Linked DNA regions of Homo sapiens. The protein of the gene in region 1 purifies or fractionates together with the protein of each later gene. This does not show direct contact. Each region holds a gene or a part of one and is shown on either strand. Other genes may lie near its edges.

What was found.
Region 2: the proteins of CROCC (region 1) and SRBD1 purify together in Homo sapiens (affinity purification with mass spectrometry; one large-scale study listed by BioGRID and IntAct). This does not show direct contact.

Annotation. Positions count from the first base shown.
Region 1 is NC_000001.11:16,956,145-16,959,961, forward strand, and holds part of CROCC (rootletin), read left to right. Parts: coding exon 1-12; intron 13-2,438; coding exon 2,439-2,606; intron 2,607-3,817. UniProt on the Homo sapiens protein: Major structural component of the ciliary rootlet, a cytoskeletal-like structure in ciliated cells which originates from the basal body at the proximal end of a cilium and extends proximally toward the cell nucleus.
Region 2 is NC_000002.12:45,594,056-45,597,872, forward strand, and holds part of SRBD1 (S1 RNA-binding domain-containing protein 1), read right to left. Parts: intron 1-3,817.

The DNA.
Region 1 (3,817 bases):
CTCCGGCGTCAGGTACTCTCCCTGTGCCACCCCTTAGCCTGGGGCTTGCTGTGTGCCCCGGGCCAATAGCTCCCCCTTTCTGGAATTACGTTTCTACCCCTATGTAAAACCAGGGGCTTGAACTATGACAAGCCCTCTCACCTAACCTTGGTGTGAATGGATGGGCTTTGAGGAGTCCTTGAATCCCTGAAACTGTGCAAAAGTCTGCGTGCATTTGTGTGCACACTCAGGCTCACATTTCTGCAAGGAGAGGAGCTGGTGTCCTTGTCCAGTTCTCAAAGGAATCTGCAAACAACAAAAGGTACAGATTTTGTGAACTAGGTCAGAGGTTGGCAAATGGTTTTTTGTAAAGAGCCCAAATGGTCAATATTTCCAGCTTTACGGGCCACACAGTCTCTGTTGCAACTACTTGACTCTGCTGGGGTAGTGAGAAAGCAGTCCCAAACAGTGCATGAACAGAGGGGTGTGGGTTCCAGTAAAACTTTGTTTAGGGACACTGAAATGTGAATTTTCTGTCATTTTCATGTGTCAAGAAATGTTGTTCTTCCTTTAGAAATGATCCATTTTCGATGATTTAAAAATGTAAAAAAAAAAAAAAATCCTTAACTCAGACCCTTGTAGAAACGGGAGATGGGCTGAATTTGGCCTGTGAGCTGTAGTTCGCTGACCCGTGAATTCGATGATCTGCAAACTCAACAGCAGCATGTATTGAAGAAGCACCTGCTGTCTACTGGGCACTGGCCTGGACACTGTGGGTTCAGGCTTCTCACTCTAGAAGATGCAAAGAACAGGAAATGGCCTCATTCAGCCCCTAGGCGCTGCCTCACCCAGAGATATCACAACCAGGCCAGGCGCAGTGGCTCACACCTATAATCTCAGCACTTTGGGAGGCGGAGGCCAGTGGATTGCTTGAGCCCAGGAGTTCGAGACCAGCCTGGGTAACATGGTGAAAACCTGTCTCTACTAAAAATACGAAAAATTAGCCAGCTGTGATGGCTCATGCCTTTAATCTCATGCTTTGGGAGGCCAAGTTGGGAGGACTGCTTGAGCCTAGGAGTTCAAGACCAGCCCAGGCAACATAGTGAGAACCAGTCTCTACAAAAAATTTAAAAAATAGCTAGGTGTGGTGACACGCTCCTGGAGTCCCAGCTACTTGGGAGGCTGAGGTGGGAGTATCCCTTGAGCCCAGGAAGTCAAGGCTGCAGTGAGCTGTGATCGCATCACCGCACTCCAGCCTGGGCGACAAAGCAAGACCCTGACTCTAAAAAAAGTTTTTAAACTTTTAATTTTTATTTTATTTATTTATTTACTTTCTGAGATGGAGTTTCACTCTTGTTGCCCAGGCTGGAGTGCAGTGGCGCAATCTCGGCTCACTGCAACCTCCGCCTCCCGGGTTCAAGTAATTCTCCTGACTCAGCCTCCCAAGTAGCTGGGATTACAGATGCCCGCCACCACACCTGGCTAATTTTTTTGTATTTTTAGTAGAGACAGGGTTTCACCATGTGGGCCAGGCTGGTCTCGAACTCCTGATGTCAGGTGATCCACCCACCTTGGCCTCCCAAAGTGCTGGGATTACAGGCATGAGCCACGATGCCTGGCCCCCCCAAATTTTTTTAATTAAAAAAATTGTTTTTAATTACAAAAAAAGAGATCACAACTGGATAGCCAGAGATATTCTGATACTCTGATAGCCAGAGATACCACAGCCCCCTTCACCCAGGCCCCTTCCTGAGAAACCACAAGACTCCCGGAAAGGAGCTGGCATTTGCGTGCCAGCTTTTGCTGGACGCGTTGCATGCTACGGCCTCTCCTGTTACCCCTGCTGTAGCACATGGGGGAGGTAGGCAGTACCCCTCCCTGCTCCTGTGGGGAAATAGGGGCTTAGAACATTGCCGTTGTCTCAGATCGAATCCCAGTCTGGTGTGTGTGGGCTGTGTGACTTTGGGGAGGTTACTCTGACACTCTGAGGCTCAGTTTTCTCATCTGTTAGATAGGGATAATGTTACTACCTACCTCATATAGCATTGTACCAAGATTAAACGAGTTAATATAACTGAAGTGCTTAGAACAGGACTGGACACATGGTAAGCGCTCCAAAAACGTTCATCGCCATCGTAGAGGGGAAAGATAACCCAGGGAGCTGTGGTTCCTGCCTGTGAACTCCTGGTCTGCTAAGGGCTGAGCCCTCCTTCTATTATACCCACCCCTTTATGAAAGGTAGTTTTGGCCCATTGATTAAGTGGTAAACAGGCCACTGGTGCCCAAGTGCCTGGCATCGCCCAAGTTCAGTGTGGTTGTGTAGGGGCCGGCTCCCAGTGGATGTGGGGTGGTATTTGATACATGTGTCCCTACAGCAGTAGGTACCAAGTGGCCTTGGGCCAGAACTGGGAGGGTACAGGGGCAGAGCTGAACCTGCTGCCATTCCCGTGCTCTCACAGATGAAGATGCTGGACAGTGAGAACACCAGACTGGGCCGGGAGCTGGCGGAGCTGCAGGGCCGCCTGGCGCTGGGCGAGCGGGCAGAGAAGGAGAGCAGGCGGGAGACCCTGGGCCTCCGGCAGAGGCTGCTGAAGGGCGAGGCCAGCCTGGAGGTGATGCGGCAGGAGGTAACTGAGCAGGCGGGCAGGCTGGTGCATCTTTCCTTCCCCCAGCAGGAAGCAGGTGGGCACCCCAATGCTGGGGCCATTCTGAAAGGCCACTCCCTAGGGCTTGCTCCTTCCCCCACTCCTTGAGACTCTTCCCCAGTTGTAGTAACAACAACCCAAAGAACAGTGGGCCTACTGTGTGCCGGCACAAAATGGGTAGGGAGAGGCCCTGTAGATACAACCTTGTTTGATTTCCCCAGCAGCCCTATGGGGTAGGTACTGTTAGCCCTTTTTATTTAGTTATTTATTTTGAAATGGAGTCTCACTCTGTCGCCCAGGCTGGAGTGCGCTGGCACCATCTCGGCTCACTGCAACCTCCGCCTCCTGGGTTCAAGCAATTCTTCTGCCTCAGCCTCCCGAGTATCTGGGATTACAGGTGCTTGCCACCACGCCCAGCTAATTTTTTGTATTTTTAGTAGAGACAGGATTTCACCATGTTGGTCAGGCTTGTCTCAAACGCCTGACCTCAGGTGATCCACCTGCCTCGGCCTCCCAAAGTGCTGGGATTACAGGTGTGAGCCACCACACCCTTCCTACCATTAGCCCCATTTTACAGAGCCCTCAGAGAGGTCGAGGGATCTACCCAAGGTCACACAGCCACCTAAGTCTGTCTGACTCCAAAGCCCACAGGCTACCCGCTCTGCCTTTTCCGGCTGTTTCATTGCCATGAATCTGTTGTGTGGCCTGAACCAAGTCACGTCATCTCTGTGCCTCAGAGCGCTCATGAGAGATGGGCTAGCACAGCCGAGCATGTATGAAGGGCCCTGGCACAGGTCCTGGCAACCAGCTGCTCAGTAGATGGGTTTCCAGTGAAACTGGTGACCGTGAGAGGTTGACTCTCTAAATGGCAGGGGTGGCTTTGTGTCTGTGTGACCATGCATCCCATCAGGAAATGATATTTTAGTGCATGCCCCCATTGTGTGCAAATTTATTGATAAATTATGGGCAAGGGCGGCAATGTAGCCTAGTGGTTAAGGGAACAGCCTCTGGACACAGCTCCCTTTGGAACCAGTGGGCACTTAACCTTCCTGGCTGTTCACTGTGTTCTCAAGTGCAGCCCACAGCCCCCGTGTGGCCCCGTGTGGTATGCCTCCCCGCCTTTCCCCCACCCCCCAGGGCTGTGAGTACATGTGATTAATAAGCTGCTGTCAAGCTATTAAAAACAAAAAACA
Region 2 (3,817 bases), on another chromosome or scaffold:
CAACTAAATTATATTAACAAAAAGTACCAATTTCTCTTATTTAATTTCTCCTGGACAAATAGGTTAAACCTAATAAGTGGTTCCACCTTTATACACAGAATTGCACTGAGATACACAACTCAGAAATGTTGACCACTTTTTGTCTCACTTCTTTCCCCAATTTTGTCATCCCATGGCTTTCTTCACGCACATAATTCCACACAATTCCACACAATCTCTTGCAACAAAGGGAAAACAGCTAATAAAAAAGGTTTTGTTTGCCTTTTCTCCCTGTTTAGCAAACTTTACTAAGATATTACACATGGCTGCTCAACTCCCCTACACTCACCACTCCCGAAAGAAACTGGACAACAACCACCTTTGGAGCAGTTTAATTTTCCCAAAAATTGTCTGTAGCTGGTCACTTCTTCAAATTCTTATAGTTCATGGTATCCAAAACATATCTGCAAAATAACTTTAACAAAAACTAGTTTCTGGTCGCAATCACACATTTGCAGTTTGGGAGAAAGGGCTGAAAAGGAGTAGGTTGCTTCTGTCAAAAGACCTGGTGATCCCCAACCCCGGATCAGGAAATAGAAACAAAATACATTCATGTATAATGTCTGTTAAAACATTATAGGAAGCCATTGTTTTGGATGAAGCTCCTGCAGTAGGCCCCGATAGACCCTATGTTCCATAGACTAAAAATCAAAATGAACTCACCCTGGCTAAAATTTTAGTCACCAAACTAAAACAAAGTTGTTATCTGACTTTCCAAGAAATCTAAAGAATGATAACAGCCAATTTATCAAACAGGCCAGTTTCAATCTTCAATAGGCATGATAATAAAGTTCCCTCTACTTTAATCCTTATACAAAAAGACTGAAGTAACTTCATTTTATCTGTTATTTTTCTATTTTTCTGTCTCCCTCTCTCCACTTTACAAGGAAAGCAATCCACTTTCTGTTGTTTCTGCTTTCATTAGTCCTATCTATAAAACCAACCCCCCTGCTTAATTCATTAGAACACTTATCCTATTTTATGAAATGAAGTGTTGCTTGATTCTAGAATCATAAACCCAACAGAGATCTTTAAACTAAACTTGTAATTTTGTCCTTTTGACAAGCCTAAAACTAAATCAAGTGTTGACTATATAGTTCTGCCTCTCCAAACAAGACAGTGATGTTCCTGAAAAAAATCTGTAGTTTTCAGAGTTGAGAAATACACCTTGAACGGAAAAAAACAGAGGACCAAGTTATCATTGTGGCCAAGGCCATGGGGAATAGTACACAAAATAAAGGATATATAAATGACATTTCCACATGTTCAACTAGTAATACTTAATAATTTCCATACAATTAAGTTTCACAACCATTCCTTGCTAACTAGATAACTATTCAGGATTTCCCCCAAAGAATTTGGACATACATTTTGTGGCAGATAATATGCATGTTACAGGTATTTTGTTGAGTCTGATCCTTATCCAAATGTTCAGGACTTTTCTGATTTTCTGGCTTGGTATTACTTGACTCTCATTCTTGTCAGTTCCCTCTTTTTCCAACATCTACCCCTGTTCTCAACCATGTTTACAAGCAGGAATACAGTTTTAAGACAAAATTACTTTCTCTCTGACAAAGTTTCTCCTGTTTACGGAGAAATTTTAAAAGTATAGGAAAGGAAATCCACATATACCACAATAATTGTCTGTAAAATTCAAGTTAAAATTAAGGAAGGATAATTGCAACTGGTTAAATAAAAAGAACCCAAACATGTAAAATTCACATGTAATAGTTTCCCAGGCAATTTCCCTAAACCCACCAGGAAAATGCTGAGCTTAATAATTGCCATCAGATTGCTCAGCAAAGGTGGCAGCGTCCCAAAAACCACTTCCCAATTCACAGGCAAGGAGTGCCCAGATTCTCAGAGAATAGGCATTCAGCTGTCAACATTCACTTCAAAAAAGGAAGAGGAAAAAAAAATTGCTTGGAATTAAAAGGAAAATCTAGCATGCCTATAATTTTCAAAATATTTTCTAAGAGGGCAAAAGGCCATAAAATAGTTCTTGTGCCTTTAAATGAGACAACTTGCTTCCAAGTCACTATTCCCACAACACAACAAAGGACATTACTGCTACTAGCTTACAAATAAAACTTTTCTTTCTTTACTTTTCCTTTGTCACTCACCTTCTGGCAGCTGGGCACCTATCGCTCATCATACACTTGTCCCTCCTCATTCTATTCAGCAAGTAATCTTGCCTTTCTCTTGGAATGTATTTTCCAAAAGGCTTTGTTTAGCTGCTATTTTAGTGACATTACAGAACGCATTAGTGAACCCAGATATTCATTCCTAACCAAACATTAAAAGTCTAGGTTAACGGATTGCAGAACAAATTTTCTTCTCTCAAAGCTCTGAAATCACCTTCAGTTATACCTATTAGAGAAATGATGCAAACTAGAAACTAAATTCTACAAATACTTTGAGTCAATTCTCAGTAATTTCTCAGTAAGTTTTAACTTTAAGATGGTTTTTCTGAACAAACAAAACTGTTTTCTGTCTATTTTACTCCTATCCATAAAGGATTTTTTGATGGTTAACCCATTGCATCTACTAATCCATCATGATAATGTAGTAAACAAATCTAAAGTGCCTAGTACAGAGCCGAGCTCATAACAAGTCATCTATAAATAAATGGTAAGTATTATGATCCCTTGTCAATTAAAGATCTGTAAACCAACACCTTAAGGTATTATGGTAAAAGAAACCTAAGTATTTGTCAACAGTGGCTAATCATCACCTAGATTTATAAATTTACATTCTAAAGCTGAACCCTGAAGTAGACATCTTCTGGCCCAGAAATGCCCTCCTTTTCTCAGAGAACACCCCCCCACAACCCTAACACACACACACACACACACACCCACAACCCTAACACACACACCCACACCCACAACCCTCACACACACACACACACACACACACACACAGCCCTGGCAGCCATATTTCTAAAATACAGTGAGGCCTCAGCACCCCAGGCACTGGACCAGAGATGGATACCTGACCCAAATTCAGCCAATCAGACTTTCTTCTTAAAATTTGGAACTGGAGGCTGAGTGCGGTGGCTTACACCTGTAATCCCTGCACTTTGGGAGAAAGAGGTGGGCGGATCACCAGGTCAGAAGACGGAGACCATTCTGGCTAACATGGTGAAACCGTGTCTCTACTAAAAATACAAAAAATTAGCCAGGCGTGGTGGCACATGCCTGTGGTTCCAGCTACTCAGGAGGCTGAGGCAGGAGAATCGCTTGAACCTGGGAGGCAGAGGTTGCAGTGAGCCAAGATCGCGCCACTGTACTTCAGCCTGGGCGACAGAGTGAGACTCTGTCTCACAAAAAAAAAAAAAAATGTGGAACTGCAATACAGAAGCAACTGGTTAGTCTACGTAACTAATAAAACTAATGGCAAATAAACTAGGGAGCTGTCATTTTCTATCCTCTGTAAAGAAGCAAGAAAATCTTATCTGCTGAGAAAATAATAACTCAAACAGAGAAGCAGCAGAAATTGGTGATTATAAGACACCAGATAGAGAGAAAACTAACAGCACCTTCTCTGAGTCCTCACAGTTTCCAATTTCTGGTTCAAGTCCTTTGGGAGACTTGACCACATTCTGTCCCTTTTGTTCTTTGAAAGGTCCCTATGTCCTTGGTGAAAAACTCTTTTCTACTTAAGCTCATTATAAAGAGCTTATATACTTGTAACCTAGAGACAAAAGGTTAAGGCAGGGCCATTTTCTACATCTCTTTCCCTGTAACAGAGGGTGGGAAGCAGAGTCATAGAATAA